Regions from separate parts of the Homo sapiens genome. Here region 2 is linked to region 1. A link means that fine-mapping ties the variant in region 1 to the expression of a gene that starts in the linked region. Tissue or cell type: whole blood. Region 1 holds a variant in brackets; the other region holds the start of a gene. All regions are shown on one strand. Distances are from middle to middle.

Evidence for each region. PIP is the estimated chance that this variant, and not a neighbour inherited with it, causes the effect.
Region 2: it holds the start of RAI1, and the variant in region 1 is fine-mapped to the expression of RAI1 in whole blood (TOPMed, PIP above 0.99).

What each region holds. Positions count from the first base shown.
Region 1 is chr17:17,722,551-17,730,722 of GRCh38, forward strand. It overlaps RAI1 (retinoic acid induced 1), which reads left to right. Exons shown (of 6, transcript NM_030665.4): 2 at 1,478-1,609. Among named protein-coding and RNA genes, the nearest start is that of RAI1-AS1, 40 kb to the right of the region's middle. RefSeq lists an enhancer at 2,462-3,343 and silencers at 7,105-7,399, 7,114-7,312, 7,342-7,401. The variant C/T (reference allele first, on the strand shown) is at 4,095.
Region 2 is chr17:17,676,940-17,685,111 of GRCh38, forward strand. It overlaps RAI1 (retinoic acid induced 1), which reads left to right and starts at 4,519. Exons shown (of 6, transcript NM_030665.4): 1 at 4,519-4,854. SMCR2 (Smith-Magenis syndrome chromosome region, candidate 2) reads right to left here and starts at 749. Exons shown (of 4, transcript NR_131243.2): 1 at 636-749. RefSeq lists silencers at 4,240-4,749, 4,780-4,919, 4,980-5,059, 5,071-5,243, 5,230-6,179 and an enhancer at 4,560-5,161.

The DNA.
Region 1 (8,172 bases):
CCCCAAGGTCCCCGGTCCCGCTCTTCTTTGTCTCGGCCTAGTTCTCGGCTGTCTCCGGGCCGCGACCCACCTCTCCTGGCGGTCCTTGCCGCATGCTTCTGTGCTGCGCCAGAATCATCGAGTCTCAGTTCTCGCTGCCTTCCCGGCCAGTAGGCGTCTCCCCCAGCTGGGGAGGGTCCCCCAAACCCTGTGCTTCTAGGACCGCGGGGCCGGCAAGCGGCAGGATCTCCAAGCTGCGTCTCTGATGCGGCTAGGGGAGGCGCGCGATGAAGGCCCCCCTCTTCTCCGCCTTCTCTCTACGCCCCACCGCTACTACACGTCGCGCTGCGCCGCGACCCCGGCGCTGCCTGTTGGCGCCTTAAGCGGCTCTTCTGCCGCGGTGCGATCCCCGACGCCAGGAGGACTAACCCCCACCCGCCAGGCCTCAGACCCCACGCAGATCCAGCCACACACGCAACCGCCTGCAGATACCCACCACAGCCCTTTAAGTTAACCCAAAGCCCCGTACAGGCGCACTGCCCCTACATGCGCAGCCCCACGGCCCCACACACCCACCAGCCCACTCGCAAACAGGCCCACATGGCCACACAACTGCCCTCTGGACACTCAGCCCCACGCAGGCACAATCCCATATACACACAACCGCACACAGGCGCAATCCCACCCACGCAGTACCTCACGGAGTCACACAACCCCCCTATAAACAATCGCACAGACACAGCCCCACGCAGCGCCACATCATTCAGTCAAACTGAGACCCAGAAACACATTCACTAGCTTGTATCCAGACCCCCCCCCCCAAGCCCCGTGACATTCACTCGTAGGACAGACCAGAAATATACAGCCACATTGATACACACACGGACCTAAACGCACAGCCAAGACCTCACCCGCAGGCTCGTAAGTCACTGGAAAAATATTAAAGCGTTCCCTCCCTCCCCTCCTCTATCTTTGACATACACACGCCTGCGCGCGCGCGCACTCTTACACTCACACCCCCCGTCCCTAAGCGCGTCGGAGCCTCGCAGCGGGTGACCCCGAGGCCCCGCGGTGAGAGCCAAGGGAGCGTCTCCCCGGCGCCCCCTCCTCCCGCTCCCTTCCCGAGCTCATCTCTCGCCCCCCCGCCCGCCTCCTCCTTCCCTGCCCCCTCCTCCTCCTCCCTTCCCCCGAGTCTGGGGCGCGGGCTGCGCGCAGCCAAGCCCCCTCATCGCGCGCCCCTCCCCGCGCGCGCCCCGCGCCAGCATCGCGCTTACCGAGTGGATGCGGCCACGGGGCCGTCTCTAATTACCTCCTGACCCCCGGCGGCCTGTGAATAATGGCTACTGAGGGCGCTCGCAGGGGCTGCTAAGAAGGAAACGCGGGGCGCGAGAGGCGCGGCGCGCGCGGGAGCGCGAGGGAAAGGAGCGAGCCTGGGGCCGTTGCAAGCGGCTGGCGAGAGAAAGGATTCGTGCGAGCGCTCACATTTGTTTCTCCCAAGGATCTCATCTGGCCACCGCGTTCTGGAAGAGGCGAGAGGGAGAGCGTGCGCGAGAGGAGAGAGACGGCGGGGGAAAGGGAGACGGCGAGACGCGCAGCGCCGGCGCCCGGGAGACCCAGGAGGAGCCCGCAGGTATTGTTGGCGGCGGAGCTTTGTGTTTTCGGCGGGCTGCTGTGGGCGCCAGGGCTCCCCGAGCCCCCGGCCCGCCGCCGCGCGCAGACCTGCCCGGAGTCCGGGGCTGCAGGCTGGGGTCGCCGCCCGCCGCGGACACCCCTCCCGCGGCGCCAGGATCTTGGCTGGAGTTGCGGATTTGCATGTTTGGGGGTTTTCCACGCTGGTTGAGGGAATCGGTCTCAGAAGAAGGAATTTCTTTCTTTCCTTTTTTTTTTTTTTTTTTTGGCCGCTTTTGGCCACAGTTTGGTTGTGCTGGGGATTCCCCCCTCCCCTTTCCTCCACAAAGCATTGGTGAGCGGTCTTGACGAATGTGGTATTGGCGGAAGGCATGGGGCTGAGATGGCGGGGCTGGTGGCCACGGATGGGGAGGCGAGAGATGCCAGAGAAGGAAGGAGTTCTGTTCAAGTTCGCAATCTGCGCCCCGAAGCTGGTCGGACCGGGGAGGGCGATCCGCGCGTCCGATCCTGCTCCGGGCAACCGATGGGAAACTTCCCGAGAGCGCGGCCTCCCTGGGGACTCGGCGCCCCTGACGCCTCCAGGCGCTTCCTCGGGCCGCTGCGGCCCCTCCTCGCCGCCCGCCAGCGCTTAAGGTCGCGCTCTCCCCACCCCCGCCTTCCTCCCTTCCTCGGCGGCTTCCGGATCTGGACAGAGCTGCAGGAGTGGCTTCAAACACTTCCCCTGGAGACCCCTCCCCACTCCCCGCACGAGAGCCTGCCCAGTGGCCCCCCTGCCCTGCGCCCCAGTCTCACGCGCGGTCGAGTGGCCAGGCTGACAATGAAATCTCGCACCTCTGCCGGGGGGAGTGGGGTGGGGAGGAGGTCCCTCCTGGGGCTGCTGACCCTGGGCCTCGGGCAGGGGGAGGGGGCTCCTGGGGGAGGGGCTTGTTTTGGTTAGAGACGTCGACCTGGGATGGCGCCGGGGCAGGGAGGGGGCTGGGGGGTGGGCGCGGCGAAGGCGGCAGGCTTGGGTTCGCGGCCGGGGGTCGTGGATGGCAGCCCCTCTTGGGCTTGGTGATTGGCTGGTGACTTCAGGCACGTCGAGGGCCCCTCCAACCTCAGCCTCCTCCCCTCTGGTACAATGCGGGCTGAAAGAGGTGATCCCGAGGGTGCTGTGCTTGTGTGACGAAGTGTTTGTCTCCTGCGATCCTCAGCAGACGCTGCTCCGGTGACCCGGAGATCCGGACGCCTCGACCCCTCCCTCAGGGCCGGGAGGAGAGGAGGATGAAGGGGGAGGAGAGTGGTGGGAACTTCTCCTTTCCCATTGAGGCCATGGGAAGGGAATGCTAGCCCAGAAAATTTCTGGGGACCGCAGTTCTGAGGCGGGGACTCAATCCAAGGGGGGACCACCGGGTCAGAGGCTTCCCGGCACGCAGAAGCCCCCAGATTATTTTGCTCCATCGGGGGATGCAGAGGAAGGGGAGAGGTGGAAGAGCGAAGGGCTAGCTGGACTGGCGTTGCGGGGGTGGAGAGCCCGTGGAAATCAGCCTTAATTGGATTCCCAGGCAAGCAGCCAGGCTATCAAGGTGCCCCCTCCCCTTTTTCTTCCTGGGGTAGAGAGCCAGGTCCAGAGACACCAAGCTGGCAACCCAGGCAGGTGAAGGCAATTCCTCTCCCTACTTAAAAAGAGAATTCCTGGGGGAGAGGGGAGGCACCTTTTGAGAGGGAGGGGGGCGGCTAGACTGTGTTCAGGCTGTTCTGTCTCTTGGTCCAGGAATAGAAAGAGTTAACCCTCCCCCAGAAATTTGTCAGCCCCCACACAGCAGGGAAACATTGTTGGACCCTCTGACATGCTAACAGTGTGACACCGGCTGACTGGAGCTAGCAGATTCTAGACCCTGGACTCCCCCTTCAAAGCCCAACAGGACTCGGCTGGGTGGTGCCTTGTTCAGGGACCTTGTGGGAGGCGGAAATGAGAGCCCAGAGAGGGTCAGGCAGCAAAGCAGTGGCCTTGTGGCCCGGAGGGAAGAGGGGTTACAAGCCAGGGCCATCGGAAACTGGAAGGGAAGTCGCCATGGGTCTGGGGTAGAGGGAAGGGAGAGGCCCTTCTACCCTTTGCCCAGACTCCTGAGCAAGGCTTTGCCCTGCTCCCCACCCTTCCCACACACCCACTCAGCTGCAGGCCTGGCCATTAAATGTGGGTGTCTGACCCATAGGTTGGACCATGAGACCCTAGTGGCTGAGGGAGGCCTGGGTGAGGCTCTGGGAGGCAGGACTGAAACCAGCAAGGGATTCACTGCTGCTCATGCCCTATGGCACAACCCCCTTATTTATGGGGCTGCCTTCCCTTCCCCAGACCTCGAGTTTCCGTTTTCAAGAACCTTTTTCTTCCTATCTTCCTTAGGGCCCCCAGGGCCTAGCACACAGCAGTCACTCACAGTGTCCTGTATTTGTCCAGCTAAATGGAGTGAATGAATCAGTGGTGAATGAATGAAAAGGGAAAGTTT[C/T]TCAATTGGAAGCATCTAGCCCTTGTGGTTTTTTTTAAACCTTTTTGAAATATATATTGTAAAATAGCATTCACAGAAAAGCTGAAAAAAAAAGAGAAAAATAAGGTTATTGACAGTCTTAGAGGGCTCTGACAATGTTAGTATTTTGATGTAGTTCTTCCCAGTCCTTTTCGACTCGGTGGTTGGTTTGTTTTTTAAAGACTTTGTCGTCATTCTCTATATTCAGATGTATATCCTGCTTGCTTTGCCGGCATAATGTGAGCCTTTTCCTGTTTTGTAACCAATGCTTCATAAACACCATGGTTAATGTCTTCAGGCTTTTCCAATCAAGTGGATGTACCATAATTTACTTAATATTCCCCTTTTGTCCAACATTCTGGATGTTCCTGATGAATGATGTAGTGGATATATTTTGTATAGCTTTTCTTGATACTTAAAATGATTTGCTCAAAATGCCACTGCTGATGCCGAAGGCTCCGACTGCCTGCAGTGGGAGAAACGGCTTCTCTAGTTTTCCTTGGATAAATGGGACACTATTTTTCCTTCCCCACAATCTAGAACCTTCCATCAGAGCCGAAAAGAGCCTTGGCAATGAATCACCTATCTGACCTCCCTCCTTTGACAGAAGAGGAAGCCAGAGCCCAGAGAGGGGAAGCGAGTCCCAAGGTCACACAGCAGTTGCTGGGCTATGCAGCAGCGAAGACCCAGCTACTGATTTGCCATGTTGGTTTTCGCATCTGAAAAGATTCCTGAGGTCTTTAAGGCTGACCCTGCCCATTTCACAGATGGGGGGACTGAGACCCCAAGCTTACCCCTGGTGCCGCCAGCTGGAGCCCCAGACAGGCTTCTCGGCCCTCCTGGGCCACCCCCGACTGGGTGTGTTCACGGGATCTGGCGGCTACAGGCTCCCTGTTGCCCGCCCCACCTGCCCACCACAGTTCCCCTTCCTCTTTGCCATCCCATTCTCCAGACAAAAAGCTGAGGATCCAAAGCAGATGCAGTGAGGGGGTGGGACTGTAGGTCTCTGGGGACCCTAGTGGTTGCGTCCTTGCCCCATGCCTCAGTTTACTTGTCAGAGACCTAACCTTGGATCTGTTCAGGAGCAGAGGCAGATGTTGGCACAGATATGAGGTATGAAGGAGTGGTGTGGGGGATGGGGTGCACCTTAAAATCTCTCTCTGGCCCGAGATTCACCCCAGGAGACCCCCCGGGGAGAAGGGAAGGAGAGAGAGAGGGAAGAAAGAGTTGAAGCAGAGACAGTATTCCCCATCAGAGGACAGGGACTTTCTGCCCCCTCCCCTGCAGCACACCAACCATCCGTGTGCCTCTGATCCTGCTTGTGTATTGCTTAAGGGGTTTGTGTGCCTTCCAGCTTGGGCATGTGTTGTGCATGCGTGCCTCTGTGTGTGTGTGTGTCCGTCCCTGTGTGTGTCCCCTCTGTGGTGTCAGTCTCTGATCCCATTTGTGCATTTCTGGGGGGAAGGGAGGGTGCCCCCGAGCTCGGTCTTGTGTGTGCGCGTGCATGCATGTGTGCATGTCTGTGTGTGAGCACACTGTTTCCTCCTAATGGCCCCAGGAGGGATCCAGGCATCAGGCTTTTGTGCTGCTTCAAGGTTGTGGCTGGGTGGGCGAAGAGAGGGAAGGCCTTCGACAGGGAGGGGTGGGGTTGAGGGAGGCAAAAGAAAATCTTAAAAGACCGTCTTCCCTCTGGTCTCCAAGGAGATCAGGCTGTGAAATGATCCGCACGTTAATTAAAAACGATTATATCCTGATTGAGCCATTCCTGCTCACATCCCCCAGCCAGGGAGAGGAAGAGGCTGAGAGCAGAGGATGCAAAATGGGGTAGGGTCCAATGGCAGGGCATAGCCAGGTGGAGCCACAGCCCACGGAGGGGAGCACAGGCTGGGGGAGTCAAGTGGGAAGGTGTTGAGGGGCACGTGCCCAAGTCTGATTGGAGCTTCTCCTTTGAATTTTAGGGACTGTCTTCCAGTGGTGGTCTCTGAGATCCCAGGAGTGGGTGGCAGCCACCCAGCCCCATGGATCTCCACTCATATGCCAGGCACTGAGCTTGTTGTTTGCACAGATCCTGCAAGTCAGCGCTTGTGGTTCCAGTTTTACAGAGAAGTGACATGCTTGAGGTCATGCAGCCAGGAGTTGGGAGCCCCAGATTGGACCCAGTCCTCTGACCCCGAGGCCCAGATGCCCTTCATAGCTCCTAGCTGCCCCCAGATTCCCACCATGAGCCCCTACCTCTGCAGGACCCCTGGGAGGCTGGGGCCTACCATGACAAGAACTTCTCCATGGCGCCCCTGAGGTGGTTCCTTGCTGAGGTCCGAGCAGCACAGGGCTGGGCGGCTGTGATGTCCATTCACGTGGGGAGCTGGGTGACTCACTAGCCTGGAGCAGCCTTGGGCTGACTCAGGTCACCTTTGCCAACCTGGGCAAGGCCTGCCTCGCCCCACCTTGCTCCTCCCCAACACTGGCTCATGGTTCCACAGCAGACCAGCCACAGGTGCCCCGTGAGGCTCAAGACACTGTATCCACACTGCTGGGTACCTGTGCCATGTCTTTTCTGGAAGGAGTCTGGGCCTGGTCACGCTGGGCCTTGCCTGGTTATCTGTCTGCTGTAAGCCTTGTAAGGACTACGGTGGTAGAAAAGAGTAGTGGTAACAATAAACCAGACGACCCTCCACCTCCACCCCAGCATCAGGTGTTGCGGGGTTCACAAGCGTGGCAGATCTCAGCATTTGTGGGACCTGCCTGCTGCCATACCTCTGCCCACTCCCATCCACCCATGTGCCACCTCTGTGTTCCCTGAGCCCAGCTTCTCCGAGAGGAGGAGACCCACTGTGGCTTGGCCACACCCAGAAGCAAGTGAGATCGCTGGCCACGAGTGGGGGCTTTTTCTGCTTCTCTGAGCCTCAGTTTCCCCTTTGTATAATGGGGATGATAGCTTTTTCCGGAGAGGACTGACAAGAGAGTAAGGAAAACCAGGTCAAGTTTGTTCAAGTGCCTGGCAGCCCTGGAACGCACACAGAGGCCCATTTGTGCATTTGTGCAACTGTCCATCCGTTCAGGGCACTTGTGTGTTGCCACAGGCCTTGGGTTTGCTGGCTTCTGGGGAGGGACACACACTGTCACATTTCAGTGCTTTCTAGGAGACAGTCTGGGGCTCAGGTGACTGTCATCTCAGCATGAGCCTCTAGGGGGCAAAGATGCTCACTGGACCCACCTGAGGCTATGTTAGCAAAGGTAGAGTGGGAGAAGGGAGAGATGTTTCTGCTGGGGTAGGTCCTAGTGAGATTTGCTGAACCTGGTCCCACATCTTAGCAGGAGCCAGAAACAGTATCACGAGGCATCAGAGGGGCGGGCAGAACAGGAAGTCAGCATCCACCTGTTCCCCAAGGCAGAACTGGGAGAGAGGCAGGCAGATGTTCACTCATTCCACAAAAAGCCCTTTGCACTGAAGCAGGCAGAGAGACCCTGCCTGCGCTGGGTCATCCCTGCAAGATGCCACCTTTCAGGAGAACAGTTTTTGTGATGTTGGTATCTGCCTTCCTCCTAAATATCCCCTTCCTGCCCTTCCCAGGGCCTGAAATGCTTCCGTTAGTCACTGCCGAGGTCAGAGCATGGAAGGCCCTGATTAAAATGCAAACTGTTACTTGGAGGAGTGATCAGAAGATGAACTCATGTTTGCATAATGCAGAGGCCACCCACCCCTAGGCCCCGCAGGGCCGGGCAGGCAGTGCTGATGGGGTTGTGGTGGCTGCCTGGCCCTCATGGGGCGCGGTAGCTCAGCTCTGCCAGGGCAGCCCATGGGGATGCAGCCCATGGCGCCTGTTGCCCACTGTCTCAGGAACAGGATTAGATGTTGACATGACACTTCCTGGTCTGTATATGTTGTCACCTAATTCAGCAGCACCCCTACGACCAGATTTAGACCTGGGGCCACTAGTGCAGCCTCCTGGCTTCAATGCTGCTGCCCAGTGATCACTGTGACCATCCTGCAATACAAGTGGGGCAGGGACGGCAAAGCTGGGGCTCCCAGAGGGGAGCTCCCCTGCCCAAGTCTAGGCCA
Region 2 (8,172 bases), 46 kb before region 1:
CCCAAAGTGCTGGAATTACAGGCATGAGCCACTGCACCTGGCAACGTATGTCAACTTCAAAATTTTCACTTTTTGCTCTGCTTTCCAATCAAAACAAACCTAGCAGCCTGAGTTCGGCCTTTGAGCTGCAAGTTTGAGACTCTGCCCCAACACTGACTTTATTGAGCCTCTGCATTGCATAGCGTGCACACCCCTGCTCACCCTTCTACCTGTGTGCAACTAAGGATGACAAGCAGGGTCAGCAGCAGAAGTGTCTTGGGGCTAGCTCTGCTGACAGTGATCCCTGATCAGTTCCTAGTTCTCTTCTGAGAAGACTGAGCCCTCTCAACCAGCATCATTCAGAGCAGTCTCAGGATGGTTAGGCCTATGGCTGTCCTCCTCTGGAAGGGCCCTCGTTTGTTCAGAAGCCTCCCTGGTTAAAGCAGGCAGAGGAAAATCACTCTTGAAAGCTCAACTCACTAATCACCTCCTCCAGGAAGCCTTCCCTGAATTCCTTGACAGGACTAGGTCATTACTCTGCATGCCTGGGCACCACAGCACTCTTCATGGGTAACTTTCACATTGCAACCCAGGGTCTAACCCAGTGTCTGACCCACAGTGGGCTCTCCATGCATGAAATGGGTGACTAAACTCACCTGCTGTGTGACTTTGGATCAGTGACTTCACCTCTCTGAGCCTTGATTTTCTTATCTGTAAAATGAGTTGAGGCAAGACAGCATTCAGAGGGTCCTTGCAGATGTGATTAAATAAATTAAGAGTCTTCTTGAGATGGAGGGATTAGCCTGGATTATCCAGGTGGACCGGAATGGAATCACAAGGGTCCTCATGAGCAGAGGCAGGAAGGTCAAGGGAGGAAGTAGAAGCTGGGACAATGGAAGCAATTGTTTTCTTGCCTGTTCTAGCTTCTGGAGGTCACCAAGGGGTCACAAGCTGAGAAACACAGGCAACCTCCAGAAATTGGAAAAGGCAAGGAAGAGATTCTCTCCTGGAGGCACCAGGAGAGCTAGCCCAGCCCACACCTTGGCTTTAGCCCAGTGAAACTGATTTTGGAGTTCTGACCTCCAGAACTGTAAAGAATAAATCTGTCTAGGCTGGGCAACATGGTGAAACCCACTCTCCACAAAAAATACAAAAATTAGCTAGGCTTGGTGGTGTGGTATGTGCCTGTGGTCTCAGCTACTTGGAAGGCAGAGGCACGAGAATCACTTGAACCCGAGAGGCAGAGGTTACAGTGAGCCAAGATTGCGCCACTGCACTCAAGCCTGGGCAACAGAGCAAGACTCTGTCATAAATAAATAAATAAATAAATAAATAAATTAATTAATTAATTAATTTGTGTTATTTTAAGCCACTTGTGGAATTTGTTACAACATCCCTAGGCACCTGGCACACAGTAGGTACTCAAAAGTGGCAGTTCTGGTCAGGCGTGGTGGCTCACACTTGTAATTCCAGCACTTTGGGAGGCCAAGGCAGGAGGATCACTTGAGCCCAGAATTCAAGACCAGCCTGGGCAACATAGCAAGATGCCATCTCTATAAAAAATAAATTGGCTAGGCATAGTGGTGTATGCCTGTGGTCCCAGTTACTCAGGGGGCTGAGGTGGGAGAACTGCTTGAGTTCAGGAGTTTGAGGCTGCAGTCAGCTATGATCACACCATTGCACTCCAGCCTGGGCAACAGAGTGAGACTCTGTCTTACACACACATATACACACATTCACACTCACACACAAAAGCAGTTGTTAGTACCTTGACCGCACACCCTCTTCCATCTGCCTGCATATTCCTTCCTCCTCTCACTCTCTGGGACACCCATCCCCTTTGCAACCCAGGGCTCCCTTCCTGCCCATCCTCTGAGGTCTGCCTCAATCGCCACCTCCTCCAACCCTTCGCTGAACTGACATCCAGAAATGCTAATCCCTTGAACAAATGTGCTTCCTTGAGTGGTGCCTGAGCTATGGCTCCCAAAGAGGCCAGGCTTGTGATCCTCTTTGTACCCCCAGCCCTGCCTACAGGGTCCAGTGGCCCCAGTCATGTAAACTTGATACCAAGGAATTTTCAAAACAAAAAATACCTAATTCCAAGGCCAGAAAATTGACTCTCCTTGGGGTTCCAGCTGGTCTCCCACCCTCTCCAGGTGGAGAAGCTAGTCTTGGGGACCCTTGTGTGGGAACCAGAAATCTCCCAGCAAGACCTCCTTGTCTTGCCTCCCACTGGGGTCCCTAGAACCAGCCTTCCCTTAGGCTCCACTCAGGAGCAGGTTAAGGTAAGGCAGGGAGGGCAGGAGACCAGCTCGGGGTGGAGATTGGGAGCCCTGGATGGATGATAGGGACTGTTCCCATTAATCTAGCATCTTAAAGCAGTAATAGCACTTACTGCATGCCAGGCTGTGAGCTAAATGCTTTCCACACGTACCTCATTCAATCCTCTCAACAGACCCATGAGGTAGGTACTATTATCCCCATTCTACAGATGAGGAAACGGAGGCTCAGCAAGTTAAGTAGTTTGCCCAAAGCCACCCAGCTGGGCATAGAGGAGCCACGTTTAGAAACCAGATTTGCCAGGCGCGGTAGCTCATGTCTGAAATCTCAGCACTTTGGGAGTCCGAGGCAGGTGGATCACCTGAGGTCAGGAGTTCAAGATCAGCTTGACCAACATGGAGAAACCCTGTCTCTACTAAAAATACAAAATTAGGTGGGTGTGGCGGTGCATGTCTGTAATCCCAGCTACTCGGGAGGCTGAGGCAGGAGAATTGCTTGAATCTGGGAGGCAGAGGTTGTGGTGAGCCAAGATCGCACCATTGCACTCCAGGCAGGGCAACAGGGGCAAAACTCCGTCTCAAAAAAAAAATACATAAATAAATAAATAAAAATAAACCAGATCTGTCATCCAGAAACCGCACTTAAAACAAGCTTAAAACAACACAGTTCGCACTGGGATCCAGCTCTGTCTTGCTCTTGACATTCACCCTGGGAGACGGGTAGCCAAGTCCAGTAGGAAGGACTGTGGGGACCTGTGTTGATTCTGTCCTGTAGCTTGAGAACCTGGACAGGGGACTTCACCACTCTGCGCCTGTTTCCTCATCCACAAAATGTGATGAGCCGACCTCACAGAGGGGGCACCAGGATCTAATGAGACCATGCACAGAAGGGGCACAGCAGGCCTGGGACAGAGTGAGGGCCCCCCATCTATCACAATACCTTATTTTGCAGATGCAGGATTCACTTGTCCCAGGTCACCCACAAGCTCTGATGCCTTGACCAGCTCCCCTCTGCCCTACCAAAGGACAAATGAGGGAGGCTTCGATGGGGCTGTTAATGGGGTCATATCCCACAGACCCTAGAGCCTGGGTGGGGCTGAGAGGCTTCCCAAGCAGGTGGCAGTGAGCTCCCACCTGAGCTATGGCAAGTAGAGACCTAGGCATGAAATTGCTCCGAGGTCTGTACCTTAAGTTTCATGCAAGGACTCTCTCATTCAACATGCCTCTGTTTAAAGTCTGCCAGTGGCTACCTTCCTTGCACTAGAATTGCAAACAAATTCCTCACTGAGCTCTCTGCAGCCCTGCAGGCTCTGGCCCTCCCGATATGGCTCTGACTTCAATGTGCCCATTACTTGTCCCCTTGCTGACGGCCTCCTCACAATTCCACTTACTCACCAAGTTCTCTCCTGCCTCAGGACCTTTGCACTTGATGTTCTTTCTGCCAATGATGCTCTTCCCAGGAGGGCAGGCCCCTGTAGTCCCAGCTACTCAGAAGGCTGAGGTGGGAGGACTGTTTGAGGCCAGGAATTCAAGTTCGGCCTGGGCAACACAGCAAGACCCTGCCTCTAAAAGAACAAAATGCTCTTCCCAGACTCTACCCATGGCGGTTCCTCTTGCTATTTAGATCTTTGCACAGACAGGCCTCCTTCTCTCTCCCCCAGCCAAGGAGCCCTAGCCGTCACTTCACCTGCTAATTTTCGTCCTAGCACTTACTGCTCTAAAATTATCTTCGTCATGTATCTAAGCATTTGTTTGCTGTCTGTCTCTTCCCACCAGGATGCCAGCTCCACGACAGCAGGGACCGCATTGTCTCTGCTGATTCCTCAAGACTCAGCAAGGTGCCAGGTGCCCAGTAAATGAAGTTTACATGAAGCCAATGGAGTTTTGAAATCGAAAATGTTTCTCAAACTGCAAAGAAGTGGGCACAGGTGAGGGCTAATGGTGGGGTGAGGGTGGGGGCCTGGCCTGACGCTGGAAGCTCCTGTACGCAGGGCGCTAGTGTCCTCCCAGGCCGCACCGGGATCCCACCGCAGAGGCCCCCTCCCGCAGGCCGGCCAGCGGGCGGGGGGCGCGCAGTGGGGCGCGCGGACCGCCAGGGGGTGCTGTCGGGGCGCGCACGGCCCACCTGGCGCCCGGGGCCGCGAGCGAGCGCAGCCAGGCCGCCCGGGAACTTTTTTCCTCGCGCTCTTGCTCTCCTTCTCCCCCCGCGCGTCGCCCGCCCGCCCGTCCGCTCGTCCGCTCTTCCTGTGCGGAGGGGATCGCATTCCTCGCGGCACCCGCGGACACCAGGCAGGCCCGGCCGGGTGCGCGGCCAAGGCCCGCTCCCCGCGTCCCCGGGCGCCGCCCCCGCCCGCGGCTGGGCTCCGAGAGACGAGTGGGAGAGCGAGTGCAGCGAGGGCGAGAGGCGAGCCGAGCAGGCCGCCCTGCCCGCGGCCCTAGCGCCGGCGCGAGGAGGGGGCGCCGCGGCCCACCCTCCTTCCTGCCTGGCCGCGGGCCGGCCGGGCCGCCGCGCCCCGACCCCCATGGCCACCCAGGCCTCCGGGCCGCGAAGTCGCAGCGCCAGACCCAAGGCCCCCGAGTGAGCGCGGGCGCCGAGGTGAGCAGCGAGCGCCGGGGCGCGGGGGGCGCAGTGTATCCTGCCCCGGGGCGGGGGCGGCGCGAGGCGTCGGGATCCTAGGCCGGGTGATGAGCCGAGGCGGGTTCGGACGCCGAGCGCGCGCGCTGGGTGGAGATGTGGGGTCCGCGGGGTCCTTGCTTTGTGTGGTGTGGGGGGTGCGCGAGGTCACCGGATGGACGTCTGGGGAGCTGCAGGGTGGGGGCGCCCTGCGCCGCGGCTGAGGGTCTTCTGGGGGATGTGCGGCCAGCTGAGGTCGGGTGGGGGCATGGGGGCGCGAGGGGCGAGTGTGGCAAGGGATCTGCTTGCGCCGAGGCGCGGAGTCTTTGCGGAGCGTGGGGTGGGGACGTGGGGTGCATTCGCGGGGCGCCGGGGGCGGAGGTGAGCTTTGTGAGTGCGTCCGAGGTGGGGGACGGGGAGCTGACTTCCCCATGCGTGACCCGGGCCCGGCGTGGCCATCGCTTGGGAGTCAGGGCCGGCGAAGGCCGTGCGTGGCGAGATGGGTGCTCGGGCTCTCTGCGGTGTCCCTACCCGGGCAGCGGCCCCGGGGCCTGTGCGCAGGCCCCGAGGCCGGGCAGGAAGCGGCCCCCGCGACCTGGGGAGCTCTGTAGCGGCCAGGCCCGGGAGGCACGGGCCCTTCGGGGATGACGTCACGGGCGGGGGCCCCGGACACGCGAGCCTTGCGCCCCACAGACGGCGGCGCAGCCCGCCGCCCTTTTCGAGGCCGGCCCCCCCTCTCACGCGCCTTGAAGGCAGGGAACCCGGGAGGAGGACATGGGGGCCGAGTGCGGCGGGGACAAGGGGTGGCAGGACGCGAGGGTGACATTTGGAGCCTGGTCGCGCCAGGGGCCTCCGTGGTGGGGCGGAGGGGAAGCGAAACACCAGCCAGGCCCTAGGCCGTCGCGGCCCCAGCTTCCTGGGGCGCCCGTTTTCCCGGCTAGCAGTTTTCTTTCTTGGGGCTCTTGGTCGTTATCCAGTCCACGCAGGGGCCGGAGTGCGGGCTGCCGCGGTGCTCTCCTGCGCGGAGCCCGGGCTGGCGGGGGCGCGGCGGGCCTCGGGCTCTGAATGGATGGGAGCGAGTGTAACAATGCGCCGGTGGGGGCTGGGGGAGGGGAGGCCGCGCGCCTGAATGGCGGAGCCGGCCGGGCGCTGCTCCGCGCGCCGCACACTCTCCCGCGCCGCCTTCCCCGCGGTTTCGGCGGGCCCGGATTCAGGGACCCACTCGGGATCTGCACGGTTCCTCCCACCAATACTGTCCCCCGCCCCCCTTTTATGTCTTTCCAATGCAGTAGTGTGTTGAGAATTCAAGGGCATTACATCTGGTTGCAATCCAGTTTCATGCCGCTGCCGGGCTGTTAAGACCTCGCGCTGACGTCAGAGCAGGGGAATTACTTCTTTTTATTTTATCTTTTTTTAGTTGTCTGCTGCCCTGGGAGGAGAGGCGGGGGTGGGTTAGGCTAGCTCTGATGTGGAGGCGCCAGCGTGATGGGAGCCCCGAGCTGGGGGCTCTGCTTCTCTTCCTGCCCCTGCCCCCCTCCATTCTCCATACAGTCCTCGCTCTGCTCAGGGTCAGGCCCACCCCAGGTGGGGGGCAGCCCTCGCTGCAGACTGAATGGTGGCCCCTCCCTGCTGACCACACAGCTGGGTTTTCAGAGGCTTTCCTGGGACGTGGCCCTCGGGATCTAGAAACTGGAAAGGAATCTTCTAGTTTCCCACCCCTCCCCCTCTTGACAGGCAAGCCGGTATATTCGGGGCCCAGGAGCAAGGAAAAGTGGCCTTTTGCGTGACACAGAAGTGGACACATCATTCTGATCTCAGGGCAGGCTCAGCCCCATAACTCTGGCAAAAGCTCTCACAAGCAAAAGCCTTGGAGAGGAGGAGAATGTATCAAGGTGAGATCCAGGCCCCAGAAGCCAACTGTGGAGTGGGCAAAATAGGACCTTTCCCACCAGCCTAGCATCCCTCTGGCTTCTGTGGAGATAAAGGGAACTCAGGGGTACTGGAGCTGCCTTTCTCTTCCACTAGACTGTGGGGCTCTCATAGGCAGGGACCCTGTCTTACTCCTCTTTGTTTTATTTTTGAGACAGGGTCTTGCTGTGTGGCCCAGGCTGGAGTGCCTTGGCACAAACACAGCTCACTTCAGCCTCAACCTCCAGGGCTCAAGCGATCCTCCAGCATCAGTCTCCTGAGTAGCTGGGATCACAGGCGCCCGACACCACACGTAGCTAATTTTAAATTTTTTTTTTTTTCTAGAGACAGGGGTCTTGCCATGGCTGGTCTTGAAGTCCTGGGCTCAAGCGATCCTCCCTCTTTGGCCTCCCAAAGTGCTGGGATTACAGGAGTGAGTCACTGCACCCAGCCTTACTCCTCTTTAGACTCCCAAGCCTAGACCAATTGCTTTCAAATTCTTGCCCGTGACCTATAGTAAGAAATACATCGTAGGTAACTACACAGGTCACACTGTATATAGCTGAAACAAAAGTTTACTGAAATAACTCCCTTACTGTGTCTGCTGGTCTGTAATCCTTTTTGTTCTTGTGTATTTGTTTTTTTTTTAATTACTGATTGCTACCCACGAAATTAATTTTGCAATCCACTGATGGGTCATACCCAGAATTTGAAAAAAACAAGCCTAGGAAATGAATTTGCCATCTATTCATGCAACAAATGTTAATTGCAACCCTAATAATTCCTCTCATGTTAAACTACTCAAGTAACACTTGGATACTTGGGTGAAAAATGCAAATAAGCCAGAAATATATGTAGTAAAAGTAAAAGTTCCCTTGGCACCCTCCCTGCAGGTAACCCCAGTTAATAGTTTGAACGTATCCTTCCAGACTTTTTGTTACTCACTTAATGCATATATATATATATATATATATATATATATATATATGTATGTATGTATGTATATTACATATACCAATCCATGCATAGTTTTCTTTTTCCCCAAGTGAGGACATACTGTGGGCTCTTCCTCGGCAGCTTCCTTTTTCCTCTCCGTTTGTCTTGGAGAGGTTGGTTGTGTGGCGAAGTCCTTCAGGGCAAGTTCTGGGTTGACTCCTGGCTCCACCACATACTGAACAGGCCATTTACCTCTCTGTGCCTCAGTGTCCCCATCTTTACAATCAGGAGAATAACAGTACAGACCTCACGGTACTGAAGTAAAGATGCAGTGAGTTAATCCATATGAAGTTTAGAGCAGTGCTTTTGCCAATAAATGCTGATTGCTGCCGTCATTGTTGTATTGTTATTGCTGTTCTATCTCCATGGCAGCCCATGTTTGAAATGCATTGCTTT